Linked DNA regions of Homo sapiens. The protein of the gene in region 7 interacts with the protein of the main gene of each other region in a biochemical or structural test. Each region holds a gene or a part of one and is shown on either strand. Other genes may lie near its edges.

What was found.
Region 1: the proteins of HTRA3 (region 7) and RASSF6 interact in a test that uses a peptide from one of them, tested with the Homo sapiens proteins (one large-scale study listed by IntAct).
Region 2: the proteins of HTRA3 (region 7) and PTH1R interact in a test that uses a peptide from one of them, tested with the Homo sapiens proteins (one large-scale study listed by IntAct).
Region 3: the proteins of HTRA3 (region 7) and CTNND2 interact in a test that uses a peptide from one of them, tested with the Homo sapiens proteins (one large-scale study listed by IntAct).
Region 4: the proteins of HTRA3 (region 7) and PLEKHA2 interact in a test that uses a peptide from one of them, tested with the Homo sapiens proteins (one large-scale study listed by IntAct).
Region 5: the proteins of HTRA3 (region 7) and ADGRG1 interact in a test that uses a peptide from one of them, tested with the Homo sapiens proteins (one large-scale study listed by IntAct).
Region 6: the proteins of HTRA3 (region 7) and ABCA7 interact in a test that uses a peptide from one of them, tested with the Homo sapiens proteins (one large-scale study listed by IntAct).

What each region holds. Positions count from the first base shown.
Region 1 is NC_000004.12:73,582,184-73,586,360, reverse strand, and holds part of RASSF6 (ras association domain-containing protein 6), read left to right. Parts: intron 1-996; coding exon 997-1,181; intron 1,182-1,527; coding exon of another isoform or gene 1,528-1,542; exon of another isoform or gene 1,543-3,755; intron 3,756-4,070; coding exon 4,071-4,172; intron 4,173-4,177.
Region 2 is NC_000003.12:46,901,662-46,904,917, reverse strand, and holds the end of PTH1R (parathyroid hormone/parathyroid hormone-related peptide receptor precursor), read right to left. Parts: intron 3,153-3,256; coding exon 3,058-3,152; intron 2,393-3,057; coding exon 2,251-2,392; intron 2,170-2,250; coding exon 2,128-2,169; intron 1,649-2,127; coding exon 1,262-1,648; 3' UTR 1,119-1,261; downstream 1-1,118.
Region 3 is NC_000005.10:10,971,116-10,974,848, forward strand, and holds the end of CTNND2 (catenin delta-2), read right to left. Parts: intron 2,599-3,733; coding exon 2,338-2,598; 3' UTR 721-2,337; downstream 1-720. UniProt on the Homo sapiens protein: Has a critical role in neuronal development, particularly in the formation and/or maintenance of dendritic spines and synapses. Involved in the regulation of Wnt signaling.
Region 4 is NC_000008.11:38,945,916-38,950,092, forward strand, and holds part of PLEKHA2 (pleckstrin homology domain-containing family A member 2), read left to right. Parts: intron 1-208; coding exon 209-306; intron 307-4,177. UniProt on the Homo sapiens protein: Binds specifically to phosphatidylinositol 3,4-diphosphate (PtdIns3,4P2), but not to other phosphoinositides. May recruit other proteins to the plasma membrane.
Region 5 is NC_000016.10:57,659,621-57,663,516, forward strand, and holds part of ADGRG1 (adhesion G-protein coupled receptor G1 isoform b precursor), read left to right. Parts: coding exon 1-61; intron 62-1,147; coding exon 1,148-1,256; intron 1,257-2,076; coding exon 2,077-2,345; intron 2,346-3,831; coding exon 3,832-3,896. UniProt on the Homo sapiens protein: Adhesion G-protein coupled receptor (aGPCR) for steroid hormone 17alpha-hydroxypregnenolone (17-OH), which is involved in cell adhesion and cell-cell interactions.
Region 6 is NC_000019.10:1,046,488-1,050,664, forward strand, and holds part of ABCA7 (phospholipid-transporting ATPase ABCA7), read left to right. Parts: intron 1-314; coding exon 315-537; intron 538-669; coding exon 670-891; intron 892-965; coding exon 966-1,167; intron 1,168-2,407; coding exon 2,408-2,518; intron 2,519-2,778; coding exon 2,779-2,950; coding exon of another isoform or gene 2,951-2,975; intron 2,976-4,177. UniProt on the Homo sapiens protein: Catalyzes the translocation of specific phospholipids from the cytoplasmic to the extracellular/lumenal leaflet of membrane coupled to the hydrolysis of ATP. Transports preferentially phosphatidylserine over phosphatidylcholine.
Region 7 is NC_000004.12:8,290,254-8,294,430, forward strand, and holds part of HTRA3 (serine protease HTRA3 isoform 1 precursor), read left to right. Parts: intron 1-1,116; coding exon 1,117-1,311; intron 1,312-2,067; coding exon 2,068-2,100; intron 2,101-3,833; coding exon 3,834-3,948; intron 3,949-4,177. UniProt on the Homo sapiens protein: Serine protease that cleaves beta-casein/CSN2 as well as several extracellular matrix (ECM) proteoglycans such as decorin/DCN, biglycan/BGN and fibronectin/FN1.

The DNA.
Region 1 (4,177 bases), about 65 Mb from region 7:
ATCTGCTATAGAAATTGTAATAATTCAGTAACCAAATTTTGACTAATCAATTATGAATCATTGTTAAATATACATGACTCAATGAGAAGAAATAATAGGATAGTGGACAACTAAGTGAAAAAGTCATTCATATCATACATCTGGAATGTTCTAAAAAGAACATAATGTGATATATTACAAATAGTAGGACTAGTCCAAAGCATACTATTCCTTTTGCTTTTATAAAAGATGGGAACAAAATCTTTCAATGCTCCACATACCATATAAATAGCTTCTCAAAGAGCTTTCTGTAGTTTTATAGGAAAACTAAGGCCCAGTGTTTATTTTTTAGGAAAAGCTCCAAAGAACTTGGGCCAACATATAATGGGGTGGGGGGAGGGGGGAGGGATAGCATTAGGAGATATACCTAATGCTAAATGACGAGTTAATGGGTGCAGCACACCAGCATGGCACATGTATACATATGTAACTAACCTGCACATTGTGCACATTACCCTAAAACTTAAAGTATAATAATAATAAAATAAAAATAAAAATAAAAAAATAAGGATCCAGACCTGATTCTATCATTTATGAGTACTATGTCCATAGGAAAGCCACTTCAACTCACTGTACTTTTTCTTACCTGTAAGAGATCAAACCTGATAAAGTATCAGGTTTATTCCAGCTCTAACACTCTGAAATGCCACAAAATGCACTCCCCAATAAATTAAGATTAAAGGAATGCCCAAACCCCAAACATGATCATTGTGATCATTTCTTATGAAACATAAGAATGAGACATAAGAATTTTATATGAGATACTGGCAGAATTTGCTGAGTCAGTCTCAGGCAACATTTAATAAGTAAATATGCAGCTAAGCAGTGGACTATAATGCTTTTACACAGCCAGAAAATAGCAATATTCCTAAAATTAATGAAAGCATACACAAATCCACTCAGGATGCTAGGACACAGGCAGCTGAATGATATGAGCTTATAATCTATTCTTCCCAGACTATTTATCTTATCACAGCAACACCCTGAAGCCACATGCAAAGGATGAACCAGACTCCCCAGTGCTCTATAGAACCATGAGTGAAGCAGCTCTGGTGAGAAAAAGGATGAAGCCTCTGATGATGGACAGAAAAGAAAGACAGAAAAATAGAGCCTCTATTAATGGACACTTCTATAACCATGAAGTAAGTGAGTTACAATTCCATTAATGTAATATAAAATAAGGTTCCCTGTTTCACTAACAATACCACCCAATTCAATTCACAATTTAAAGTCATAATAATAACAGTAGCATGTCTAACATCTTGGGGGCACTCTCTATGTGCTAGATATTAAAGTAAATGTGTTTTAAATAGATTTTTACTGAATTATCTTATTAATCACTAAAACAATCCTATGAAATAGGTACCATTATTTTCTTTACTTGACATATAAGCTAATTGAGGCTTATGGAGATTAAGCAATTTGTCTTAGATTATGCTACTCTTAAGTAGTAACTCTCAACCTGAACCCAGCTTTGTCTGACTCCAGAACACAAGTTTTTAACCACCATGATGGGTGAACTCTATCACTGTGCCAAGTATTAAAAACATGCAGATGAGGCAGCCGATGTCTCAGCCAGCACGGAGCTCAGGGATTGAGCAGGGAAACCAACATACCAACAATAATACTGGAATAATGTAAGTGCTACAAAGTGGTTGGATCAAAGGACATTTGAACGTGAACATTTAAATAAAAGGAAAAAGCCACAGGCCAATTTATTCCAATAAATCAAACTTCTCATGTTGCCATGTTCCAGGTCTTTTACCTATACACATACCGTTTTTATATAAGTGTAGTTGTAGTTTAGATACAATTCACATTCTGCTTTTTCACTGAATATGTGTTAAATTTATATGTGCCTTTCCATAGTGCTTGTAAGACATTACATTTTGCTGAAGGTAGGAAATATATCATCATTTTTTTCCAGAACTCAAATATTTTTCATGTGATGTACTTTAGCAATCATTCATCGCTCCATCTCATAAATACTTAGCACTTACACTGTGCCAGGTATCTTCTGAGGCCTTTAATAAGAAATAGGAACTCATTGCTTTGTAGGCTTTTTCCTGTAAGGATTTCTACTTTATTTCTTCTTCTTCTACCCTTGGGGGGTAACGATAGTGTGTCTTTGGAGCCTGGTGGGGAGAAATCTCTCTTCTCAATTATTTATTCATATCAGAATTTTAGGGTTCCAGAATCATTCTCATAGCTATAAAGTAGCATTGATAGTCCCCCACAGAGAGGTACCTACCAATTGTCCTGTTTCCCTCTTCACAGAAATTGTGTTGTATGTCATTATCTTGTGGGGTAATTTGTGTTGAAGAAGGAAAGCCACATTGCTCCAAGCAAGTGGCTTTCAGATTGGATCACTTGTGCTGGAAATGAAATTGACACTAGGTTGGCAGCACGGAATGGTGGTTAAATGCTTGGGCCCTGGAGCTTGACAGCCTGGTTTTACATTCTTGCTGAGCAAGTTTCATTCTTCTTACTTTACAAGGCTGTTGATGGGATGGAATGAAATGAGGTAAGTTCAGCATAAGAATAGTACCTGGCACAAAAGAACTCGGTCTACATTAGCTTATGTTGTTGCTGTTGATTGAATGAGCTCAAGCTGGGACTATAGATATTTTACACAAATGTCATTCACTGCAATTTAATAACTAGCAGAAAACAATACAAACAAAAAAGAAAAAACAAAGCATTCTATCAACAATTATACAATGACGGACATCTAGGAATTTTAGTGGATATGTTTCTTAAGTTGCTGTGTGTCGTAAGATATGTTTTTATACTATGAAGCCCCTTGTTAATGCCAATATTGTTAGGCTATGAATAACACACATATTAAAGGCTTAGATTGTCATATCTGGAGATTAGTTATGGTGAATATAACTTGACCAGTAGTATATTTCTATCAATGTGATAGTAAATGATAGCAGGTTTCATTATATGTTTTGGCCAACACAACTGATATAAAGACTATAGATTTAAATACTGCTCTGAAAAACAAATTCACTATATGTTGACATTTTAGAAGAGCTCTTAGAGATTAGTCTTACTATCTTATTTTATAAATGAAGTCATTTATCAAATATATGTTAAGTGAGTCAATAAAGATGTTAAATGAGTTGACAAAGTTGGAGTTCGTGGGCATTTAGTGGGCACTAAAATCTAGGTCTCCTGAATGGTAATCCATGTTATTGTCATAGTGCATGAAGCTTCTTCACATAAACAACATCAAACCACGTGTACAACATATCATATTCACCTTAGCGCAGGATGAACATGTGGTTTTTCAGGGCTCCATAGAAATCGTAAATGTCACAGAATAACTTATCAATGCTCTAAAATGTCTACAAATATTGAATTTTCTCATACTTATAAAAGTTTATCCTAGACACTCTCCACACATCTTCTCAGAAAACTTATTTACATATCCACATTTTTACTCACACAAATGCCGTGTGTGTGTGTGTGCGTGTTACATGTGTGGGTGTTATAAATGTTTGTGTCTGTATACTTTGATGTTAATTTACTGATCTCTCAATATAGGACTTATCTTTTTAACAGTCCAATGAGCCACCCCAAAACCCACCCATCTCTACATCTGCTGAACCCACCCCATTTCTACAGAGCCTTGGAATACTTGGAGATTGTGCATATAAATAAAATATGTGGAAATAAATCCTTACTTAATATCTCTATCCGTTTTTAAATATGCATCTGGTGACATTCTTTCTTACTTATTTTGAAATCTTAAACTGCACTAAAGAGGGGTGTAATTGTCCAGTGAAAATGTTATAAGCATCCTCAAATGGTGTTTTACCTAATTTACTCTAGAAACAATATAAAGCTGCTTAAAAGAACACATAATATTCAAAAACAACAAAGAAAAACAAACAAAAACAAAACAAATTTTTTAAATTAATGACCTTGGATTTTTTTTGCCCTATAAGAAGATTATGTTCAAGATATTGAATACCCTTAATATAATATAATTTTAAAGACTTATGTGACAATTCTTTTTCTAGACATCAATTTTCATTCCAGCCTTTGAATCAGAAACTAAGGTCAGAGTAAACAGTAACATGAGAACTGAAGAAGTAATAAAGCAACTTCTCCAAAAATTTAAGGTAAC
Region 2 (3,256 bases), on a different chromosome or scaffold from region 7:
CCAGGCCCTTGGACAGCCTTTGGTCCTGTCCGTCATCTGGAAGGGCAGGCAGGGCTGGGTGTGGGGCTGCTCAGCAGGCACCCACACCTCCTAACGCCCACCTGAGTTTTTTGTCTTGGGCCTCCTGACCCCTCCCCTATGCCCTATGGGGTGTGTGTGGGCTGCTGGAGATGAGGTGCACTCCTGGATGCCGAGTCCGTGGAGAAGAGTAAGACGGGCTGAGCGGGAGATGGGAAGGCAGGGCAGGGCTCGTGCGGGGCTGTCTTTAGGCTGGAGCAAGAGCAAGAAGCTCGTTCAGGCCAGAGCCCGGGGTGGGCATGCTGTAGGGTCAGTCCTCAGGGTGTCGGGCTGAGGGGCTCTGTGCCACTCTGGGGCCCACGAATGGCCCAAGGTGGGAGAGGGCACGGTCCGGGGGGGTGAGTAAGGTGGTAGGTGGGTGTCAGGTGAGGACACTTAGTGACTGTCCCAGATGCATAGTGAATGGATGTGTCCCACCTTGCAGGCCCCTGCCCAGCCAGCCCTCTGGGCTCAGACTCCTGGCTCCCCACAAGTCCTGAGCCAGAGCAGGGACCCAGCCCACCCTTCACCTGCTGGCCTGGTGCTCCTACTGCAACCTCAGTCACAGAGGCATGTCAGGTCACGGGTGGATGCTAAGGCTCCTGCGTGGAGGGCTCCCTGAGTGGCCACTGGACAGCCAGGAAAGGTCCATTCTGTGGCAGGGCCGTAGGCTTGGGGGTGTGGCCAGGGACCCGAGGGATCTGCCAGCAGCCCTGGGTGGCAGTGATGGGGGCAGCAGTCAGAAGAGTTGGCCCAGAGGAGCCTGGGTCCCCCATGGGGTCTAGGTACAAGTGTGGAGAGCAGCTCCACAGCTGGCAGCAACGGAGGCTGAGGCTGGATTTCCACATGGGTCCACTTGGCTGCTGTGTGACCCCTGCAGACTTGAGCCACTCTGGGCCCTTTCTGCTGGATACCACAGGCCCCAGATCCCTCCCCATTCTGAAGTGAGACCTGAGGATTCCTCCATGACTCATGGCCCTCCCGCCACAGCTTTCCCTGGCTCCCAGCCCCACCCTCTCGGAGTGAGTCCCCAGTTTGGGCCACAGGAAGCCACACACCGCTTCCTTTTCCTTTTTCTTTTTTTTTTCTTTTTTTCCCTGTTTTTCCTCTTGGCCCCAGCCCTGAGTGGGAAATCATTCAACCACCCATCTTTTGGTCCATCTGTCCATCCACTATGTCAGCAGGTCCAGCCCCCAGCGCCTGGTCACATGACTGTCTCCCACTCTTCCTGTAGCAGGGCAGGTGGCCGCTCAGGCCCAGAGGCCTCCTCGTCCAGGCCTGAGCAGGAGCCGTTGAGGAACCCATCGTCCTTGGGAGCAGCCATGGCAGGTGGTGTGGTCTCGAGGGTCTCCAGGGCTGGGGTCCCTGGCTTGGCATGGCCAGGCAGCTGAGGGTGGCCGTTGGTGGTGGCAGTGGGCAGTAGGCGGGGGCTGAGGGGCAGGCCGAGTCCCACACGGGGGCCGACATTGGTCACACTTGTGTGGGACACCATGGGGCCGTAGCTATAGCTGCTGCTCCCGCTGCGTGCCTTTCGCTTGAAGTCCAGTGCCAGTGTCCAGCGGCTCCAAGATTTCTTGATCTCAGCTTGTACCTTGGGGCAGTAAGGGTGCGGCAGTCAGGTGTGTCTCCCAACCCCAGCGATGCCCCATCCCGGCCCCTGGACACCCAGCACGGAATGAAAATGGGAATAGGGGACTCCTGGGAAACTCCAAGGCCAAGTGAAATCCCATCCTCACAACAGGGTGTTTGGCTACAGGCAGCCGACACACCCAGAATCTACAAGGCTCAAATTGCCCCAAAGGTGGCTGAGTCCTCCAATCTGGGTCACAGATAATTGAACCATGGGGCTGGGAAGACACTTGGCTATGCCAGTGACTGAAGAGTCCCCACATCCTAGCACATCCTGAACCTGCATCATCTGGAAAGACTTCTCTGCTTTCAGAATGTCCTCAGGGGTGTTCTTGGAGGAACAAAGAAATAACAGGGTGGAAGAATGGAGAAATGAGCCTTGAGGAAGCCTCTGGGGTATCTGCCCCACCCTGCCCTATGCCAACACTGTCTCCTGCTTACCTCGCCATTGCAGAAACAGTATATGATTGCGACAAAAAATCCCTGTGAAGAGGGGTGTCTCGAATCAGGCCTGCCCCCGGAACCCCTCCCACCCTCAGCCAGGCCCGGGCCAGCACTGCGCACCTGGAAGGAGTTGAAGAGCATCTCATAGTGCATCTGGACTTGCCAGAGCGTCCCTGAGACCTCGGTGTATGGTGTGGCCATGAAGACAATGTAGTGGACGCCAAAGAGGGGCATGAGCACCAGCGTGGATTTGAGCAGCTTCCTGGGCCAGCGGGGCAGGTAGGTCAGGGCCAAGCCACTTCCCCTTCAACAAGCATTGTGCCACCCCCCACCCTGCGAGCCCCAGGCTCCGGAAGCTCAAAGGGGCCCAGGGCTCCAGTCACCATGGGAGGACAACCCAGTTCACCTGCATGGCTGCTGTCCTGGCTAAGTGCTAATAGGGCCCGTTGGTTCTCAGCGGTGTCCCGGAGCGGACTTCAAATGACAGTCCCCCTGTCCCTGGGCCCTTCGCACCTGTGGAGCCCTCAGCTGGCAAGCACTCCCCTCCACGGTCGAACCTCACTATCCCACAGTCCGCTCCTCAGGTTTCAGCTGAGCTGCAGCCTTCCCGGGGCCACTCACCGCCTACCTGTTCCTCAGACCCCCTGCAACCAACTCTTTGAGGAGAGGTTCAAGTTCGTTGCACACTCACAGACTCCAGCTCTAGTGCAGGGCCTGGTACAAGTGGGCAGGCTGGCTTTGGGGTGCCCTAGGGCCTCCCATCACTGCTGGGCAGGCCAGGTGGGTGAGGACAGCCAGGGAGTCAGACGCTGGGTCCTTTCCCTTGCCCCAGGATCATTCATGGGGCCACTGTCTTTCCTGGGGTACATGGTACCAGGACTCAGGGACCCCTGAGGAGCCAGGGCATGGCAGGCATGGTGGGCTCACCGGTACTGCTGCCGTGTGTCACACCGGCCGGCGTTGGTCTCCCGCAGCTTGGTGGCGAGCACCCGGACGATATTGATGAAGAGGATGAAGTTGAGCTGTGGGAGTGAGGGGGCTGCGTCTGGAGGCTGCACCCTAGTGGGGCGGGGCAAGGCCTGGCAGCCACGGCCATAGGCTCTGCTCTGTCACTGCATCTCTGGGT
Region 3 (3,733 bases), on a different chromosome or scaffold from region 7:
TATCTATCCTCAATCTATTTGTATATGTGCCTAAAAAGGAAAAATGGATTGGCTTGAATAATTACAAACACTTTTAAATTTTTCCCACTATCTCTCCTTCTGATGCTGGAGGCTCCTAGCTGAGTCAGCTAATCACAGCCTGGCACAATGTGCTCTCAAAGAATTATGGGATGCAAAGACATCCTTGGTCTTCATGAGTCGCAAATGTAGGGCATGCATTAAGACTCAAAAATCATAAAGAAAATATACGGTTTCTACTAGGAGGAGGAATTCCATAGCACATTAATTCTGTGGCACAACTCCAACCAGAGAATGAGTCCTATTGCTTTCTTCTGGAAAGGTTAAGCCAGCCCTTATGTTATAGGGAAGTCATGTCCATATCACATTCTCTTTACTGTTGCATTGTATGATACAGATGAAGTGGAAACCCTGTCTTCAATGTGCCATGTTTCTCTCTCTCTAGAGGGTCTGAAGCATTCCTGTGAGGGAATCCAGAAATGTGGAGTCCTGTATGTCCAACTAGTACATAATTCACACATACATTTCTGTCTACTGCTCTATTCTGAAAGTTAACTTTTCATTTCCAAAACTATGCGTGAATTGACTATCATCATTTGATTGTTGTTAAATTTGGAGAAAGAACCATTTACTTGAGACTTGGAGCTGAATTAAACTATGTAGCGTGAAGGGAAGCCAGTTTTAAAGGACGATGGCAGCCAATTTCTTTTGTTACTGATGTTTTTATTTTTTCCAAGAACAGTTAACATTTACTAGGCACCTATTGGCCTCAGCCACTTGCATCTAAAGAGCAAAGCTAGTTTACCCGCGGCCCATGTTCTTTTCGATGGTTAGCCTTATTTCTTAGCTCTGTTAACCACTATTCTAACGTTAGCTTCAAGTTCAGTTTTAATAATCTATTCCATAGTTGTGTACTGCTCCCTGCCACATGAACAAAAAGTTTGGGGGAATAAGGCGAGCAGTTTACATTTTCTGTGGATACTTCAAGTAATTGGCCCCAAAGTGAAACTGAATTGGCCATGGTTTATCGTGTTCTGAGGGGATAAAATGTGTAAGGAAACGGACCTGTAGAGAGGGTTGATATCCAAGTATGCGTGAATGTGTGAAAATCCTATAACTCCACTTCAACTGGCCTAATATCCTGAGTCACTAGATGGTCAGAAGAATAGATACAGTACAAAAGGAACAAACTGATGTACATTTATACTAAAAAACCAAAAACAAAGTTTGTACAAGATGAACAGCAAATGAAATAGCTTCTGTCAAAATAAAATCTCACACAGGTAATTTTTCTAGTACGTGGACATACATACACCCACACACACAGACACACAAGCAAGAATGTGTATTTTGTAAGATATAGGTTCTTGGAAATAGACATTCTTAGCAAATATGGATGACAGATCAATTGTAATTTATTTTCTTTTAACACTGTATCATCATAAAGAAAACTGGTATAAATGAAAAAATCTATTTCAAATATCTACATCTAAAATTTTAGGCAGTGAAAAAGCACTTTGTTGACAAGGAGTGTGGAATGATGTATGTTAATTGTCAGAAACTGCTGAATGCCTTGTTTAGTTGTCACAAACAAATTCACATATCAGAACGAACAATACTGCTAAATATTCCTTTTTTCCTGCTTTTTTTTTTTTTTGTTAAAACATACTGGGAGAAAGTAAAGAAAAACTGGAAATCCATACATCTTTCAAAAGTTTGAAATTGAAGCAATATTTAGAACCATAGATGAGGAAACACGGCGGCATTGGTGTAATATACACAACGCGCTTTTCTTCTTTAATCTGTAATGTACATCAAATACTTTACAACAATGCATTAACAAAAGGCAAGAAACATCTTGCTGTACAGAGGAACCCCAATGCAACCTGAAGCCTAGAGTCACAACGGATGAAGAGAGTAAACAAAGCGTGAGAAGCCGTCCCCCACACAGTGTGTAAACTATTCTGTGTCTTGTGCTTAACGATAACCCTTACGCCCCACCGGCCCGAATGCCTCGTCTCTCCTCCCATCAACCACGTTCAGTATAAAGCACTTCTCGTTACTCTACAGCTCACGCTAGAAAGGTGCTGCCCACTGTCATATTTAGGATCACTTTAGCTTTCTACTGATTTCCAAGTTAACTTGCGATTCATTTAGCTTTCTAAAATAGCTCTTAATATTTCCTTACTGGTTATCACAGCCTTCCTATGGAACAGGCTTTAACAAACTAAATTTGCAGGAGAAAAAAACAAAACAGAAAGAAATGTCTTGTGGTATGCATGCACATGCACTGTTCCCGGAGCGCCTGTGCCCTGCTCCTCACACCCAGGAGTCGGGGGAGGCCGGGTAGTGGCTCGTTTCATAGTTCAGTTCACTGTAGGGACGGGCAGCTGAGTAGAAGTCAACGTAGTTGCCGGTGGACTTGAGACCCAGGTGCATGGTGTACTCGCTGGCGGGAGGGCGATGGTGGACCTGGTCCTCGAAGAAGGACTCATCGTAATTTCTTGTGGAATTCTGAAATGGCTGGTAGGTCTCGTAATCTTTTCTGCTGGGCTCCTGTGGGACTGGCTGTGCTGAAACCTAAACGGGAAAGAAGAGCCACACTGGGTTACTTGGTTTCCCTTGACTCAGCCTGCCTCTTGCCCCGGCACCCAACTCTCCTTCAAAGAATAGGCTGTGTATATCCAGGCATTCACCACTGTGGCCCTGCTTCTCCAAAACTGCCAACTGTCATTGGCTTTCCTTTTGAAAATTGGATCCTAGGTCCACGTGCTATCATTCTACATAATCTTTATCATGGCAAAATATACATAACATAAAACAGCTTGCTTTAAGAAATGTTGAAGTGTAAGATTAATTAGGTGGCATTAAGAACATTCACAGTGTTGTGCAACCATCACCACCATCCGTTTCCACCACTTTTTAAATCATCCCAAACAGAAACTCTGTGCCCATTAAATGTAATTCCTCATCCCCTCTCTCTCAGCCCATGGCAAGCACCATTCTACTTTCTGTCTCTAGAAATCTGCCTAATATAGGCACTGCAGAGAGTGTTTGTCCTTGTGTGACTGGCTTCTTTCACTTAGCATAAAGTTTGCATGGTCCATCCATGGTGTTGCACATGGCAGACCTTGATCCGTTTTTGTGGCTGAATAATATTCCACTGTATGATGTGCATTGCTCCACTGATGAATGCACTGAAGGCCATGACTTTACCTCAATGTAGCAAAACTGCACTTGCACCCCCATGATTGTATATATATAAGAATAAAATAGTCCATGGTATGCATAGACCACATTTTATTTATCCATTCATCCATTGATGGACGCTTGGGTTATTTTTACCTTTTAGCTGCTGTAAATAATGTTGCAATAAACATTGGTGCATTTGTATCTGTTCTAGTCCCTGGGGTCCCTTTTCAAGCACCTGCCCCTGAAATGAGCAGAACCTCCCAAGGTATAGGGTGAGGTTAACCCTACAGCAAGTGCATACCGGGATGCACAAAGCTCTGCTAATGTGCAGTAATTGGGGAGGAGATCTGGTGTGAATTATTAAACACTCTTAAAGAAATACTGTTTGATCACTTTTGGGTGGACTCAGTGACTCCCTATTAATTTAACTAAAGTTCAGCACGGAAACGTTCTCTAGAAATTGGTCTTAGTTAATAGATAATGATTTGTAATTAGCACGTTGTGTGTAAATGAATGCTTTTAA
Region 4 (4,177 bases), on a different chromosome or scaffold from region 7:
TTTAAAGGTGGGAAAGAGAGTGAGCAGGTGTGGCCTGGGGCTTCCTAGATATCCAGGCAAATGACTTAGCATCATGGGAGATTTCTTGTTCTGCTTTGTGGAGTTCACTCATCTCACTCCCTCAAACACCTTAGCTTTGTGGAGACTTGTTGTATTGCTTGTATTCTGACCTAGGAATGTCTTCCCTTCTTTTCTGTGGCTTTTGTAGTTATCAATGCCCTGTCTCAGAGATATTTCCTTCAAGCCAATGATCAGAAAGATATGAAGGACTGGGTTGAAGCCCTGAACCAAGCCAGCAAGATCACCGTAAGTTTGGTTTCTTCTGTTTTCTGGTGGTAGTAAAAGTGCCTCTTCCCAGGCTATGGCCTTGTTGGGGTTGGGGAAAACTGAGATGGCAGCGGGGACTTTCCCAGGAGCCTGGTCTGTACCCAGTTCTCTCCCACCTCGTCTTTTTCCTTGGCTGACCAAACACAAGTTGAACTGAGAGTCTGAGTTTGAATCAAGTTCAAGGGGAAGTTCATGGAGCGTCCCCTTTGTGCTTCCTGGGAGGGCTCCCGATCAGTCATGTTTCGGGTGATTCTGGGATGCTGATTCAGAATGTGGTAGGATTGGAAAATGGATTGGTGACTGTGAAAAGTCAAGTAAGGGGAAAAGCATATGGGGAGGGAAGTCAGAACTTTTTCCCAGCTTGGGGGATACTCTTCTTACTTTCAGAGGCTGCCTGCAGGGTCAGTCCAAGCCATCCGCCTCCCTGTCCTAGAAAAGCCTTCTGTTTAAAAGCATCACAGAGCTCGTTCATGGACTGTCCTACGAGTGTGCTCTTTTTCCTTGAGTTGGCTAATGAAGAATTCCTTTCTTTTTCCTTAGAGATATAGAAAAAGAAAGGAAGAAGGGTAGGAAGGATGGAGAGGGGAAACTATGTTTTGGAAAAAACTAGACTTTTAATCAATAAGACAGGCAGACTCCTGGCTTATATAGATCATGGCTTCTTTGCTGAAAAGTTTGTTTCTGTATCATACAGTCAGAAATGCTTATGTTTGAGGGGCTTCCAGTAGTGACTATTACATGCTGCAGCAAATTATCCTCCCAGATTTCTCAGGGTTCCTGTGAACAACTGTATAGAAGAAATTTGTACACGTATATAGTATTCATATTGCTAGACCCAACCTGAGTGTAATTGAGTCTCCTATAAGCACTTTTGCTGATTAGCTTCTTATTCTGATAAACCTTGGTAAACCCGTGAAAAGAGAGAGTGATGAAAAGAGAGAGGATGGATGGCTGGGTGCAGTGGCTCACGCTTGTAATTCCAGCACTTTGGGAGGCCGAGGTGGGTGGATCACCTGTGGCCAACATAGTGAAACCCCGTCTCTACTAAAAATACAAAATTAGCTGGGCGTGGTGGCACACGCCTGTAGTCCCAGCTACTCAGGAGGCTGAGGCAGGAGAATCACTTGAACCTGGGAGGCAGAGGTTGCAGTGAGCCGAGATCGTGCCATTGCATTCCAGCCTGGGCGACAAGAGTGAAACTCCACCTCAAAAAAAATAAAAAATAAAAAAATTAGCCAGGCCTGGTGGCTTACACCTGTATTCCCAGCTACTTAGGAGGCTGAGGCAGGAGGATCACTTGAGCCCAGAAGTTTGAGGCTGCAGGGAGTTATGATCGCACCACTGTACTTCAGCCTAGGCAACAGAGTGAAAGCCCATCTCTTAAAGAAGTCTCAGGTAGTGTAAACAGCTTTGGAAAGGCTCTGCATGTTGATCTGAAGCACTGCATGACACCGGAGCATAAGCACTGACAAACAGTGTTCTTCGGGATTTTGAGAGGAAACACAGCAGCCAAGCTTCTGTGCCTCCTTTTCTGGCCACTGGGAACTCTAAAAAGTTACTTTCTGGCCAGGCGCGGTGGCTCACGCCTGTAATCCCAGCACTTTGGGAGGCTGAGGCGGGTGGATCACAAGGTCAGGAGTTCGAGACCAGCCTGGCTAACATGGTGAAACCCCGTCTCTACTAAAAATATAAAAACTAGCTGGGCATGTTGGCATGCACCGTAATCCCAGCTACTTGGGAGGCTGAGGCAGGAGAATCACTTGAACCCAGGAGCTGGAGATTGCAGTGAGCCGAGATCGCGCCACTGCACTCCAGCCTGGGCGACAGAGCAAGACTCCATCTCAAAAAAAAAAAAAAAAAAATTGTTATTTCCCTCCTTCTTTGCTGGGTTTCAGGAATTCATCTGGGTCATTTAGGGGAAATTTCTGCAGTTCCATGGTGATTTTAATCACTAAATATCAACTAAAAATCAACATCCCTAAAAATGTGGTTACATAATAACAGAACTCACAGAAAGTGAGAAAGAGTAGCTTAGGTAGGTCGTGACATGCAGCAACAAGGAGTCAGGCAGTCCTAGAGCCAAATCACTTAATTTTAATGAGCTTGAGTTGACCTCATCTATAAAGTGGAGAAAATCATGCCTGGTTGATAAGATTAGTGATAATGCAGCAAAGAGCTTATCAGTGCATTGCCTGGCACTGAATGGTGGCCCAGAGAAACTGTAACTGCTGGTATCTCTCAGCCAGAAAGAAAATAGAAGGCGGAATTTCTGGCCTGATTTGGAGGGGTAGGGAGGGGGCAGAGGACGTCCTTGTCTATGTAAACTGAGTGTGCAGTCCAGGAAGAGAAGGTCTCGTTGTCTTTGTGGGGGCCCAGCATAATCAGGGTGCTCTTATTGTTTTGAACAGACACCAAATGACAGGGCTGTCATATAGCTCTGAGCTCGGATCCTTAGGTCTTTCTTACTCTGAAAGCTGTAGAAGTGGGAGAGGACCTTAGCTTTTCTCTCGAAGTCCCGGTGACGTCCCGGCAGATAGATGTAGGGTGTTGCGTTCTCCTGAAGGTGGGGCATTGTGATGCTGGGGCACTGGTGGGAAGTCAGAGTTTAGTAGACATTCAGCTGTTTTTTTGTTTTGTTTTTGTTTTGAAACGGAGTCTCGCTCTATAGCCCAGGCTGGAGTGCAATGGCGTGATCTCGGCTCACTGCAACCTCTGCCTTCTGGGTTCAAGCGATTCTCCTGCCTCAGCCTCCTGAGTAGCTGGGGTTACAGGTGCCCGCCACTACGCCCAGCTAATTTTTGTATTTTTAGTAGAGACGGAATTTCACTATATTGGTCAGGCTAGTCTCGAACTCCCGACCTCAGGTGATCCGCCCGCCTCGGCCTCCCAAAGTGCTGGGATTATAGGCATGAGCCACTGTGCCTGGCCGACATTCAGCTGTTAATCCTGGCTTTGGGTAAATGACTCAACTGTTCTGGACCTCTTTTTTTTTTTTTCTTTCTAACAAAATGAAAGATTTCCTCAGCATTTGCAGACTCTAGTATAAATGAGTGAAGTGGGCAAGGAGGAGGAAACAGGGCAACAGGAATGAGGATAAGTGACATTTGACCCCTGGCCTCTCCCGTTCTGCTGGGGAGAATGGTAGGGACTGTGCAAACACAATGTATTTTCTATCTAAAAGGGAACTGCTGCATAGCTGAAAATCTGGATTTTTCTGTGAAATATCCCAAAACTTAGATGCAGATTTTAAAAAATACTGCATGTGACTAACAAAACATTGTTTGGGCAAAGTCAGTGGGTGGGCCACCAATTTGCAACCTCTGGCCTGTGATTTCCAACTAACAATAAAAATTTTATGATGATTTGATCAGCTGTGGTACCATATCTCTGTCAAGGAAGAGCAAAGATAGCTCATTCTTCCAAAAGGGCTCTGTGTATAATTATTAGTAACAACGTGGGAAGCCTTAATTATAATATTTTGTAATATGTTTTTCTTTTTAGTTGTGTTTCTAAAGCATTTAATATACTCTATCATTTGATAACCACAACGATGGTTATGATAAATATTATTCCACTTTTCATTTTATGCATGAGACGGTTTAGGCCTAGAAAGGTTTGATGGTTGCCAAAGGTCTCTCAGGTGGTTCGTGAGAGGTGAAGGGTTATACCACACATCTTCTGGCTCCAGACTTCATGGACCCCTTGTTCTGTCTCTACAAAGGCATGCATGCATTTTTACCTGTTCAATCTGCCCAGAATGCCTTCTCCCAGCTTCATGTTCCTGGTTCCTTTTATTTAGTTTTTTATTTTGTATTTTTTTCGAGACAGGGTCTCTGTCACCTAGCCTGGA
Region 5 (3,896 bases), on a different chromosome or scaffold from region 7:
GTGGAGGTCTTTGGCACCTATGTCCCTGGCTACCTACTCAAGCTGAGCGCCATGGGCTGGGGTAAGTGGTTGGGCGGGGGGTGCCTCAGACCTGCCTCTCCCACTTGGCTCTGGCAAAACCCAGGCACCTGGTTCTGCCTCTCCACCTATCTCTCTGACTTCCCTCCTGGCCTCCTTCACTCATCCTCAGGTGTCCTTCACCTTGGCTGAATCAAGGTCCCCTTTAGGAAGAAGCAGTGAGCCCTGTCCCCAAGAAACACTTCCAAATTCTCCACATCACTCACTCCATTGCAAAGGGGATTTACGAGCAGGGCCACCGTGTGTGAATGTGCAGGTTGTGCACTGCTCAAAGGCACCCAGTTCAGAGATCAGAGGGGCTGAAATCCAGTCCCGCTCCAGTCATTTAATTCACTCGGGCTGGCAGTGGCCCTGCCTCAGGATCCCCCTGGACCTTGGGTAACAGATTCCCTGTGGCTTGGCATTTTGTTCTTGGCCAATGACTGTTCAATTCACCTGTGGCCAGCCCTCTTATGTCAGACCTACAGCCCAGGGGCTCATGATGCCACAAGTCTGTTTGGACATTGCACAGACCCCTCAACCTCCGCATGCCCCTGACTCCAGCTTGCTGCTCTTCGCGGGTTTGTCATTGGGCCCCTTCTTTGTCCATTCCCCCATTTGCATGAAATTCCTTTGGAGGTGTCTCTGTGTCAGGACTTTGTGTTTGGAGGTGGGCAGCCCCCTCTAGGGAGCTTCTAATCTCCACCGAACGGGCGAGGTCAAGGCCCAGTGCAGACGTCCCCTGATGGCAGAACTCTTGCCGTCCCTCCTAAACTGTCTGCCCCTCCCATCTCCCCTGTGACATCCAGCCCTGCAGCAGAGACCCACAGGCCTTTCTCCCAGGGGCCCCCAGGGTGACGAAGGGCAGGGCTAAGGTTGGAGGAGATGGCATCCCCTTATAGGAAACCCATACTGGAATGGGGAGGGGGAGGGTCCAAACTTGGGGGAACTTCCCCACCAGATGGGGCTGGGTGGGCTTCAGGAGCCCAAACTTCAGAGGGGCCCTTGCCCTCCAGACTCCCTGAGGCCAGCAGGGAATGGGCAGGCCTCAGAGAGCGGGAAGTAGAGCAACATGCATTGCCACCCTCAGGCTTCCCCATCTTTCTGGTGACGCTGGTGGCCCTGGTGGATGTGGACAACTATGGCCCCATCATCTTGGCTGTGCATAGGACTCCAGAGGGCGTCATCTACCCTTCCATGTGAGTGGCTGTGTGCAATGGGGGCAAGAAGGTGGGTCTCTGGGCACAGAGGCCAGAGTGCAGCCCGGGCCCAGGTCATGCTGGCCAGGGGACACCTGGGTTCCAGTCTCCTCGAGGAATTGGCCTGGCAGTGGCTGAAGCACTGGTCTAAGAGTCATGGAGGGTGAGAAAAGGCCTGGATCTACCACTCACTCACCAGGTGACCTTGCACAGGCCCCGGCCCTTCTCTGAGCCTCGGTTTCCTCATGCATGAATGGGGGTATGGGTTGGAGCAGATGAGCCTCACCACATTCCTCAGCAGCACCTCTCTGTCTCCCCATGCAGATGGGAAGACAGAGGCTCAGGGAGGGAAGAGATCCGCTCTTGGCCACACTGAGGGCTGGTGTGCTGTTCGGAGGCAGAGGATGAGTGGGGTTGAAGTCCAGTCCTTCTCCACTCACCTGATTCACCCAGGCTGGCAGCGGCCCTGCCTGTGGATCCCCTGAACCCAAACCGGAAGCCAGGGTTCCTGAGCTCCAGCCTGGGAAGGAATCCTTCCCATTGGCTCAGTGGTTTTGAAATTTTCAGCTCTTTATGTTGTGACCCAGTGATTTCTGCCTCACTTTTGTACTATCTATATTATTACTTACTTAACATTTTCCTTTAAACAATCTGACTTGTTAACTCAAATGTATTTTTAAAATTACATCAACACTGTAAATAGAAAACAAGCGCACTTGCTGTAAACAGTGGATAATCCTGAAAACAAACATGACAACCACAGCCCAGGAAATGCTGCCCGTGCTGGCCACACGCTGAGCCCTCCTGCCTTTGCCCGCAGGTGCTGGATCCGGGACTCCCTGGTCAGCTACATCACCAACCTGGGCCTCTTCAGCCTGGTGTTTCTGTTCAACATGGCCATGCTAGCCACCATGGTGGTGCAGATCCTGCGGCTGCGCCCCCACACCCAAAAGTGGTCACATGTGCTGACACTGCTGGGCCTCAGCCTGGTCCTTGGCCTGCCCTGGGCCTTGATCTTCTTCTCCTTTGCTTCTGGCACCTTCCAGCTTGTCGTCCTCTACCTTTTCAGCATCATCACCTCCTTCCAAGGTAAGGAGAAGACCCGTCCCTTGGCCCAGGCAGGGTGTCTACACATGGAGCAAGGGCAGGGAAGAGATCACCCAGGGAACCTGAAGACTTCCCTTCTCTGGGCCTCAGTCATCCCATTCATAAAATGGGGACATCCAGGCCACAGTCAACAAGTCTTGATTGAGCACCTACTATGTGCAGGCCCTGTGTTAAGCCACAGGGCTTATGGCTGAGCTGGTTGGGTGTGGGCCTTGTTCTTTTGGAACTCAGCTCTACTGGGGAAGACTGCGCATGAGCAGGCAAGCATATAGCCATCAAAGGTGGTCCCAGATAGTAGGGACATCGTCGTGAGCACGTGCTGCACAGGGCCTCGGCTGGGGTGGGGGACACCCTAAGAAGGGTGGCCAGGGAGGCCTCTCTGGATATGAGACGTGTGAAGACAAGAGAAGGATCCCCCCATGGAGAGATGGGGGGGCCTCCCTACTCCAGGCGCGGTCCACAGACCAGCAGCAGCAGCGTTGTTAGGAGCTTTTTGGAAACGCAGCCTCTGGGCCACCCGGGCCCTGCCACATCAGAATCTGCATTTTCACAAATGCCCAAGGGGTCACGTGCACATGATAGGATCAGGAGCCCTGGTCTAGGGGAAGGAAGCTCCAGGCAGAGGGAGAGGCAAGAACAAAGATCCTGAGGTTGGAACCGGTTGTGTGTAGGAAGGACAGTGAGGGAGAGCGTGGCCAGATGGCGGCGGGTCGGGGCGGAGAGGTGGGATCCCAGGGCAGGGTCATGATGGCTCTGGCTTGATGCCAACAGGGTCCCTTTCTGTGCATGTACCTGTGTGTGTACATTGAGGTGCACACACAGGCATGCACACCCCTCTGTTCCTGGCCGTGCAGAATGGAAGGGGGTTGTATGGCCAGGCCCAGGGGCTCTCATGGGGTTCAAGGCCAGCCTCCCATACAGGGTCACCCTAGAATGGGAGCTGGGAGTTGGTGGTGGGGAGATGTTACCACATTTCGGTTATTTAACATTCAAGCCTTCATTCCTGCCTGTGAGATGAGGGGACTCAGGATTGTAAGTGAGGCCCATACATTCACACAGACATTTACTAAGCTGTGGATACATCATAGTGCTATTAATTTGAGGGGTGCAAAATCTCACAGTGCTTAAGTGGGTGGACTTCAGAGCCTGTTCACCACAGTTTGAGCCCTGGCTCAGCCACGTCCCTTTACCTGAGCCTCCTGGGCCTCAGTTTCCTTGTTTACAAAAGAGAATAGTAATGAATAGGATGGGCCTAGGAAGTTTGTGACAGTGAGAGGCCACACGGGGACGCAGCACAGTGCCCGGCTCATAGGAGGTGCTCGCTGGGTCTCATGGGTGCCCGACAGCACGTGCTTGGCAAACACTATGGAGAGGTGGGGCAGACCCGAGTCACAATGGCTGGGGAGGGAGGAGGAGGGATGGGGTGGGGCTCCCCCACCTGCTGACCCCGTGCCCTCACTGCCCGCAGGCTTCCTCATCTTCATCTGGTACTGGTCCATGCGGCTGCAGGCCCGGGGTGGCCCCTCCCCTCTG
Region 6 (4,177 bases), on a different chromosome or scaffold from region 7:
CCTTCCTGCGGTCCAGGCTGCGAACTTTGCACCTTTACACCACTCCACGTGACCTGCTGCAGCGGGAGGAGCAGGGGACTCTGAGGGTCTGGTGGGGGGGGGGACTCTGAGGGTCTGGGGGCCCCCGGCGCAGGGACAGCCTGGGCTGCACTGATGCCTGAGAGCCAAAGGCTGGCTGGATCAGGTTCCAAGGAACAGGGAGGCAAATCTTCCCGCCTTGAGATCCCGGGACACGAACCAGTCGTGCCAGATGGTGGGCGGAGGGGGGGTCTGCGGAGGGTCTCCAGCCTCCACCCCAGCCGTCCCCACCCCAGGTTCCTGCGTGTGCTGAGCCGGTCGCTGCCGCTCTTCCTGACGCTGGCCTGGATCTACTCCGTGACACTGACAGTGAAGGCCGTGGTGCGGGAGAAGGAGACGCGGCTGCGGGACACCATGCGCGCCATGGGGCTCAGCCGCGCGGTGCTCTGGCTAGGCTGGTTCCTCAGCTGCCTCGGGCCCTTCCTGCTCAGCGCCGCACTGCTGGTTCTGGTGCTCAAGGTGGGCGCGCCTCGGCCTGCCCGGCTGCAGAATGGGTGCGCTGGAGGGTGACAGACAGGGGCGGCCCCACGTGGGTGCGCGCCCCCAGGCCAATCCAGGAGCTGCACCCTAAGCTCCCGTTGCCTCTCACAGCTGGGAGACATCCTCCCCTACAGCCACCCGGGCGTGGTCTTCCTGTTCTTGGCAGCCTTCGCGGTGGCCACGGTGACCCAGAGCTTCCTGCTCAGCGCCTTCTTCTCCCGCGCCAACCTGGCTGCGGCCTGCGGCGGCCTGGCCTACTTCTCCCTCTACCTGCCCTACGTGCTGTGTGTGGCTTGGCGGGACCGGCTGCCCGCGGGTGGCCGCGTGGCCGCGGTGAGAGCCGGGTCGGGCGTGGATGGGGGACGCCCCCCGCTTCGGCCGCTCACTGACCGCCCGCTTTTCCGCAGAGCCTGCTGTCGCCCGTGGCCTTCGGCTTCGGCTGCGAGAGCCTGGCTCTGCTGGAGGAGCAGGGCGAGGGCGCGCAGTGGCACAACGTGGGCACCCGGCCTACGGCAGACGTCTTCAGCCTGGCCCAGGTCTCTGGCCTTCTGCTGCTGGACGCGGCGCTCTACGGCCTCGCCACCTGGTACCTGGAAGCTGTGTGCCCAGGTGGGCCGTAGGGGGCGGGGCTCCGGGCCGGGTCGCACCTGCTTTGCGGGAGGCTGAGCTAGGGGTGTGGCCTCCAGGCCGTTTGGGGGTGGGGGGTGGCTTATTCCCTTGGAGAGAAGGCGGGGCTTCTTGGCACACGCATGCAGGTGGCTGCATTGGAGGGGCGGGGCCTGAGGCAGGTGGGCGGGGTTTCTGGGCCGCCTCATACCTGGACGCCCTGATTCCAGGTGTATGGCCAGAAGCTGGCACAGTCGCCGGGCGCTGTGGCTCACGCTTGTAATCCCAGCACTTTGGGAGGCCAAGGCAGGAGAATCGCTTGAGCCCAGGAGTTTGAGACCAGGCTGGGCAATATAGTGAGACCTCATCAATACAAAAAGTTAGCTGGGCGTGGTGGCACGCTGGGCGTGGTGGCACGCTCCTGTAGTCCCAGCTACTCGGGAGGATGGGGTGGGAGGATCACTCGAGCCCAGGAGGTTGAGGCTGCTGTGAGCCGTGATCCCACCAGCCTGGGCAACAGAGTGAGACCTCCATCTCTTTAAAAAAAAAAAAAAAAAAAAAGCTGGCTGGGTGCGGTGGCTCACGCCTGTAATCCCAGCACTTTGGGAGGCCGAGGCGGGCGGGTCATCTGAGGTCGGGATTTCGAGACCAGCCTGACCAACATGGAGAAACCCCGTCTCTACTAAAAATACAAAATTAGCTGGGTGTGGTGGCGGGTGCCTGTTTCCTAGCTACTTGGAAGGCAGAGGCAGGAGAAATGCTTGAATCCCGGAGGCGGAGGTTGCGGTGAGTCGAGATCGCGCCACTGCACTCCAGCCTGGGCAACAAGAGTGAAACTCAGTCTCAAAAAAAAAAAAACAAAAAAAAAAAAAACAAGGCCGGGCACGGTGGCTCACGCCTGCTTTCCCAGCACTTTGGGAGGCCGAGGTGGGCAGATCACGAGGTCAGGAGATGGAGACCATCCTGGCTAACACGGTGAAACCCCGTCTCTCCCAAAAATACAAAAAATTATCCAGGCATGGTGGCGGGCGCCTGTAGTCCCAGCTACTCAGGAGGCTGAGGCAGGAGAATGACGTGAACTGGGGAGGCGGAGCTTGCAGCGAGTCAAAATCGTGCCACTGCACTCCAGCCTGGGCAACAGAGCAAGACTCCGTCTCAAAAAAAAAAAAAAACAAAACCCCAAAAAAAGCCTGGTACACTCCTGGGGGGTGGGCTAAGCAATAACCCGCGCCCCTCCCCGCAGGCCAGTACGGGATCCCTGAACCATGGAATTTTCCTTTTCGGAGGAGCTACTGGTGCGGACCTCGGCCCCCCAAGAGTCCAGCCCCTTGCCCCACCCCGCTGGACCCAAAGGGTGAGGCACTACGAGGCTTAATAGCTGGTTGTCCACATATGCCCAGTTCCCCCCCAAAACGAGATTCCACAGATGCCAATGACAATGACCTGGACACCCCAACCCTCACACCTGCCCTGAAGACACTGCGGTCCCCAAGCTCCCGCAGCTTTTATAGGCCCCGGCCCAGCAGGTCCCGGATTCCACAGCCCAGCTCTGAGGGACTTGCAGGCCCCAGGACCCCCATGACCTCCATGGCTGAGTCCACCCCATCTCTGCAGTGCTGGTAGAAGAGGCACCGCCCGGCCTGAGTCCTGGCGTCTCCGTTCGCAGCCTGGAGAAGCGCTTTCCTGGAAGCCCGCAGCCAGCCCTGCGGGGGCTCAGCCTGGACTTCTACCAGGGCCACATCACCGCCTTCCTGGGCCACAACGGGGCCGGCAAGACCACCACCCTGTGAGCCCCCAACCACTCCCTCCCCGTGAGCCCCCCCACTCCCACCCCGTGAGCCCCCCCACCACTCCCTCCCCGTGAGCCCCCCACCACTCCCTCCCCGTGAACCCCCCACCACTCCCTCCCCGTGAGCCCCCCCACCACTCCCTCCCCGTGAGCCCCCCACCACTCCCTCCCCGTGAACCCCCCACCACTCCCTCCCCGTGAGCCCCCCCACCACTCCCTCCCCGTGAACCCCCCACCACTCCCTCCCCGTGAGCCCCCCCACCACTCCCTCCCCGTGAGGCCCCCCACCACTCCCTCCCCGTGAACCCCCCACCACTCCCTCCCCGTGAGCCCCCCCACCACTCCCTCCCCGTGAACCCCCCACCACTCCCTCCCCGTGAGCCCCCCCACCACTCCCTCCCTGTGAGCCCCCCGACCGCTCCCTCCCCGTGAGCCCCCCCACCACTCCCTCCCTGTGAGCCCCCCCACCACTCCCTCCCTGTGAGTTCCCCCACCACTCCCTCCCTGTGAGTCCCCCACCACTCCCTCCCTGTGAGCCGCCCAAACCACTCCCTCCCTGTGAGCCCCCCACCACTTCCTCCCTGTGAGCTCCCTGTGAGGCCCCCGACCAGTCCCTCCCTGTGAGCAGTAATGGCGCCACTGCACTCCAGCTTGGGCAACGGAGTAAGACCCTGTCTCAAAATAAATAGGGCGGGAGTGGTGGCTCACGCCTGTAATCCCAGCACTTGGGCAAGCCGAGGTGGGAGGATTGCCTGAGGTCAGAGTTTGAGACACAGCCTGGCCAATATGGCAAAACCATCTCTACTAAAAATACAAAAATTAGCCGGGTGTGATGGTGGCGTGCACCTGTAATCCCAGCTACTCAGGAGGCTGAGGCAGGAGAACTGCTTGAACCCTGGAGGCGGAGGTTGCAGTGAGCCGAGACTGTGCCGTTGCACTCCAGCCTGGGCAACAGAGTGAGACTCTGTCACAAAAAAATAAAAATAAACAAATAAATAAAAATAAGGCTATCACAGGGTTTTGGATGTAGCATTTAATAGGTGCTCTGTGGCCAGGCGTGGTGGCTCAGGCCTGCAATCCCAGCACTTTGGGGGGCCGAGGCGGGTGGATCACGAGGTCAGGAGATTGAGATCATCCTGGCTAACATGGTGAAACAGTGAAACCCCGTCTCTACTAAAAATGCAAAAAAATTAGCCGGACATGGTGGCGGGCGCCTGTAGTCCC
Region 7 (4,177 bases):
TCCCCATTATTGACAGCTTTCTCCTCGTATTGAAAGCTGCAAAGAGAAACTTTCTTATTTGACATGATGGTGTATAATAAAAGGGAAGAGGACTGAAACGATGAGAAGGACCAGTGGCCTGGTGGAGGGGAGCCATCCAGAGGGTCAGAGGCATGGGGTCCTGCCCCACTGATCTCCTAAGTTGGGGCAATGCTCTTGAGACCTGGCCGATCGCAGATCCACGGGAAGCTACAGGGTAGTGCCACAAGGTCCCAGGAGACTTTCCGCCAGCTTCCCTCAACGGTGACATCTTAGGTAATGGGTGCAAAACCAGAACCAGGAAGTTGATGTGGGTACGAGCACAGAACCGCCTTCCCCAATTTATCGTGTGTGTGTGTGCGCTTCGGCACCTTCTAACAAGCACCCGGGATTACCTTCTCAGAGTGTGCACCACGCAGCTTCTGGAACACAGAGCTTGGCTGTTCTCCTTGCTGCCAGGCTAGTTGCAGAGTCAGATAATCAGACAGACAGGCTCCGCTGGGCCCGCGCAAAAGCAGAAGAGGGGTGTGCAGGTGTCTCAGTGTGCGCGGCGTGGGGTGGAGCTCGGCTAGTGGCTTCACTTCTCCAGGCCTGAGTTCCCCCGTGTGTCTCTACTGGGAGATGAGATGGAACTGGATCAAGGATGTCAGAGTCCTTAGCTGGGCTCCAGTTGTCTGCAGATCTCTCTCCATCAAATGCATCAGTTTGTGTGTGGTGCATATGGTGTAGTAGTTTTTACCAGGTGTCTGCAGCTTTTACCAGATTTTTAGAGGCCATGTGACCATCAGATCATTGGGCTCAACGACCTTGGAGGCTGTGCTCAGCTGCACATGATGAGCACCCATGCCTGCCCTGGGGGAACCTCTGGTCCCTGGCACAGCTGAGCCTCTGTTCCGTGTACTCCAGCCCTGGGTCTCAGCACAGGACTGCCCTGGTCTTGGTCTGCACTGGTGACCTGCCTGAGCCTTCACAGTCCTGGTGGCTTTGCACAGATGTGCATGCCTTCCCTGGGACCCCCCTGCCAGGATCTGACTCCGGTCCCCGCTGAAGGTAGACGGCTAAGCCTCCCTCTCTGTGTCTTCTCCTTCTCTCTCCTAGAAAAAGCTCCCTGTGTTGTTGCTGGGTCACTCGGCCGACCTGCGGCCTGGGGAGTTTGTGGTGGCCATCGGCAGTCCCTTCGCCCTACAGAACACAGTGACAACGGGCATCGTCAGCACTGCCCAGCGGGAGGGCAGGGAGCTGGGCCTCCGGGACTCCGACATGGACTACATCCAGACGGATGCCATCATCAACGTGAGTCCCAGGGACAGGAGGCCGGGGCACCTGCCATCTGTGCCCAAGACCTCAACCTCGAGGTGGTCTCTGACTCGGCTTGCCCCCCTCCCCAGAGCCATTCTGGCACTCGACACATCCACTTGCTAGAAAGTTCTCTCTTTACATTCGGTGGAGCTCTAACCCTGTGACTTCCACCCCAGGGTGCCAGGCACGCTGGGAGTCAGAGGCTGCTGTCCTCGCTCGGGCAGCCTTTCAGAGAAACAGAGGCATGGCCACAGCCCGCAAACACCTTTGCCCAGCTTACACACCCTGGCCAACATTGCTTTTCATTATTATTGTGATTATGTTGGTGGCACGTTTAGCATTCACAAAGCACTTCACCCAGATGCCCCAGATCACGTCCATCCAGCTTTGCCGCAGCTCAGGCACTTGGCTGGAATCCGAGTCTTTGTAGAGGGCCCCCCCAGGCCAGCAGGATGGGAAGTAATACCCCCATTCTCCATGCACCAGGCGGTGCTGCCTGGCCTCCGGGGTGTAGATGCCGAAGCGTATGGTTTGTGCAGAGAACAGTGACAGTCAGACCTCGGTCATCAGGCAGCCATCCACATGGCCTTCTTATCTGTGAAATGGGGGCAGCACTGAGGCCTTTCGATGCTGCTGAGGATGAGACCTGCTTATGTGTCTCTGCACTGGTTAGAGGCAGATCTGGAGAAGGGGCTCCAGGAAGCCTCAGGCGGGGTCAGGCACAGCTAATGCTGTTTCCTCCCCTTGCAGTACGGGAACTCCGGGGGACCACTGGTGAACCTGGTAAGTGTCCCCTAGAGCCAAAATCTCTCAGGTTTCTGGGGTTCTTCTCACATGGGGGTGCTCAGCCTTGAGGTGGGACAGGGCCCACAATATGGTCCTAGAACATTTACACCAACAGTCGGGAGTGCAGCTGGGCCGGAGGCCTGGAAGGAGGAAAGACCAAGGCTGCCCCAAGCGCCTCGGGGATGCTAGTGGCCACCAGGAATGAGGACTCACCCATGAGCAGCAGCTCAGTCCAGGGCCATGTGCCTGTCAGGGGAGCTGGGGCAAGGGAGACGCAGGTGTGGGGCTGCTCACCTCAGCCCTCCCTGCCCTGGATGTACACACAGGATGACAGGGGCACCCTCATTCTCCCCTTCCCAGTTGTGTCTTGAGCCTCAAAGTCAAGCTCAGCCTCATCCCAGGTGAGATTTTTCCAGAATAAACCAGGAAGCTCAGTTCAGAGCTCCTAGGCCCTGAAGGATCGGACGGTCCCACCCCTGAAGCTCCTATCCATGGCTGGGGAGGTGTCCAGATGTGAACAAGCCCAAGCACCATGTGAGCCACATGAGATAGCTCTGGAGGGACGCTGGGCAGGAAGACCTGGCAGCTGATGTGAGATCAGGGAGGGCTTCCTGGAGGTGAGAGCATTATACAACAGCCATCGAGATTGAGGAGGACTGGGTACAGGAAGAAGAAATCCCAGGGAGAAGGCACAACATGAGCATTGCAGGAGGCTCTCAGAGGCTTAGGGAGGGGGAGGTCAGACAAGGGGACAATGAAAGGGGCTGGTGGCCCATGTCCTGCTGCCTCAGGCCTCGTGTGCAGATGGGGCTTCACCCTATGTGCCCAAGATGTCTCCCAGGCTTTTGGCAGGGCTGAGGCCGTGCCCTGGTTTCAAGGAAGCTCGTGTGTGTGGTTTAGGCTGGAGGCCAGAAAGCCAGGCCCAGGAGGCTGCTCCGCATGGTCCAGGCAGTAGAGATGGGCACAGAGGGCCGAGGGTGGACACAGAACTCAATCTACTGGATCTCACACTCGGATGCTCTTCCTGCCTCCTGAGCTTCCAGGGACCAGGAGGACAAAGGGTGCCTTGACCCAAAGCTCTGCCCCAGGCCCCAGAGGGATCCCTGGTGAGCTGGCCAGGCCCTGACAGGGAGGGCAGGGCTAGGGGTATAAGCCAGGCTGTGGGGTGGGGCTCCTTTCCAGGAGTGTGCCTGAGTGTGAGGTCCCCAGGGGCCAGGTCAGATCCTGCCCAAGTGGTACCAGCCTCATGGGGGGCAGGGCAGGTTTGGAGGGTCTCCAAAGAGAGGGATGGGGGGGTCAAGGAGCTCCCCTGGTCCCACCTGCCAGCCCCCCACTTCTGGAAGGTAGGGATAGACAGGGTCTCTGTCCCCGACAGGCCTTACCATGTTCCTCCCTCTCTCGGTCCCTCCAAACATGGCTTGGCGGTGTCCTTGGCCCAGTGGCCGTGCTTCTTAGAGGCAGAGTGGCCAGAGCCTGGGGGCAGGCCCGAGCTGCAAGCTTCCCTGGAAATACTCTCCAGGGATGGGGAAGGGGGATCTCCAGGATTTGGAGAGGTAGGGTCACTGACACAGGTGTGATCCTGAGAGTGAGCTTTTCAGGGGAGTTGGGGGCTGTAGGGGGATTGACAGCTGGGGTCAGCCTCTAGAAACAGAGCTGTGGACACAGTGCTTTGTGGGCAGGGGTTTGCCTGGGTTCCCCCAACTGATGCCTGCTCTTACCTCCCTGCCCAGGATGGCGAGGTCATTGGCATCAACACGCTCAAGGTCACGGCTGGCATCTCCTTTGCCATCCCCTCAGACCGCATCACACGGTTCCTCACAGAGTTCCAAGACAAGCAGATCAAAGGTAAAGAGCTCACCTGGAGGGGGCCAGAGGCAGGGGGCACTCTCCCAGGGCTACAGCCCCTTAACACCCCAGCCCTGGGACCAAGGCCCACCGGAGGTGCTGGGTGAACTTTGCTCACTACTGGACAGGTCCTGTCTGCCCACCCCAAAGCTGTGAGACCCCCAGGACAGCTTATCCTCAGCCTCTTTCAGGATCTTCCCCCTGCCTATCATCGATTCGTGATCGGCTT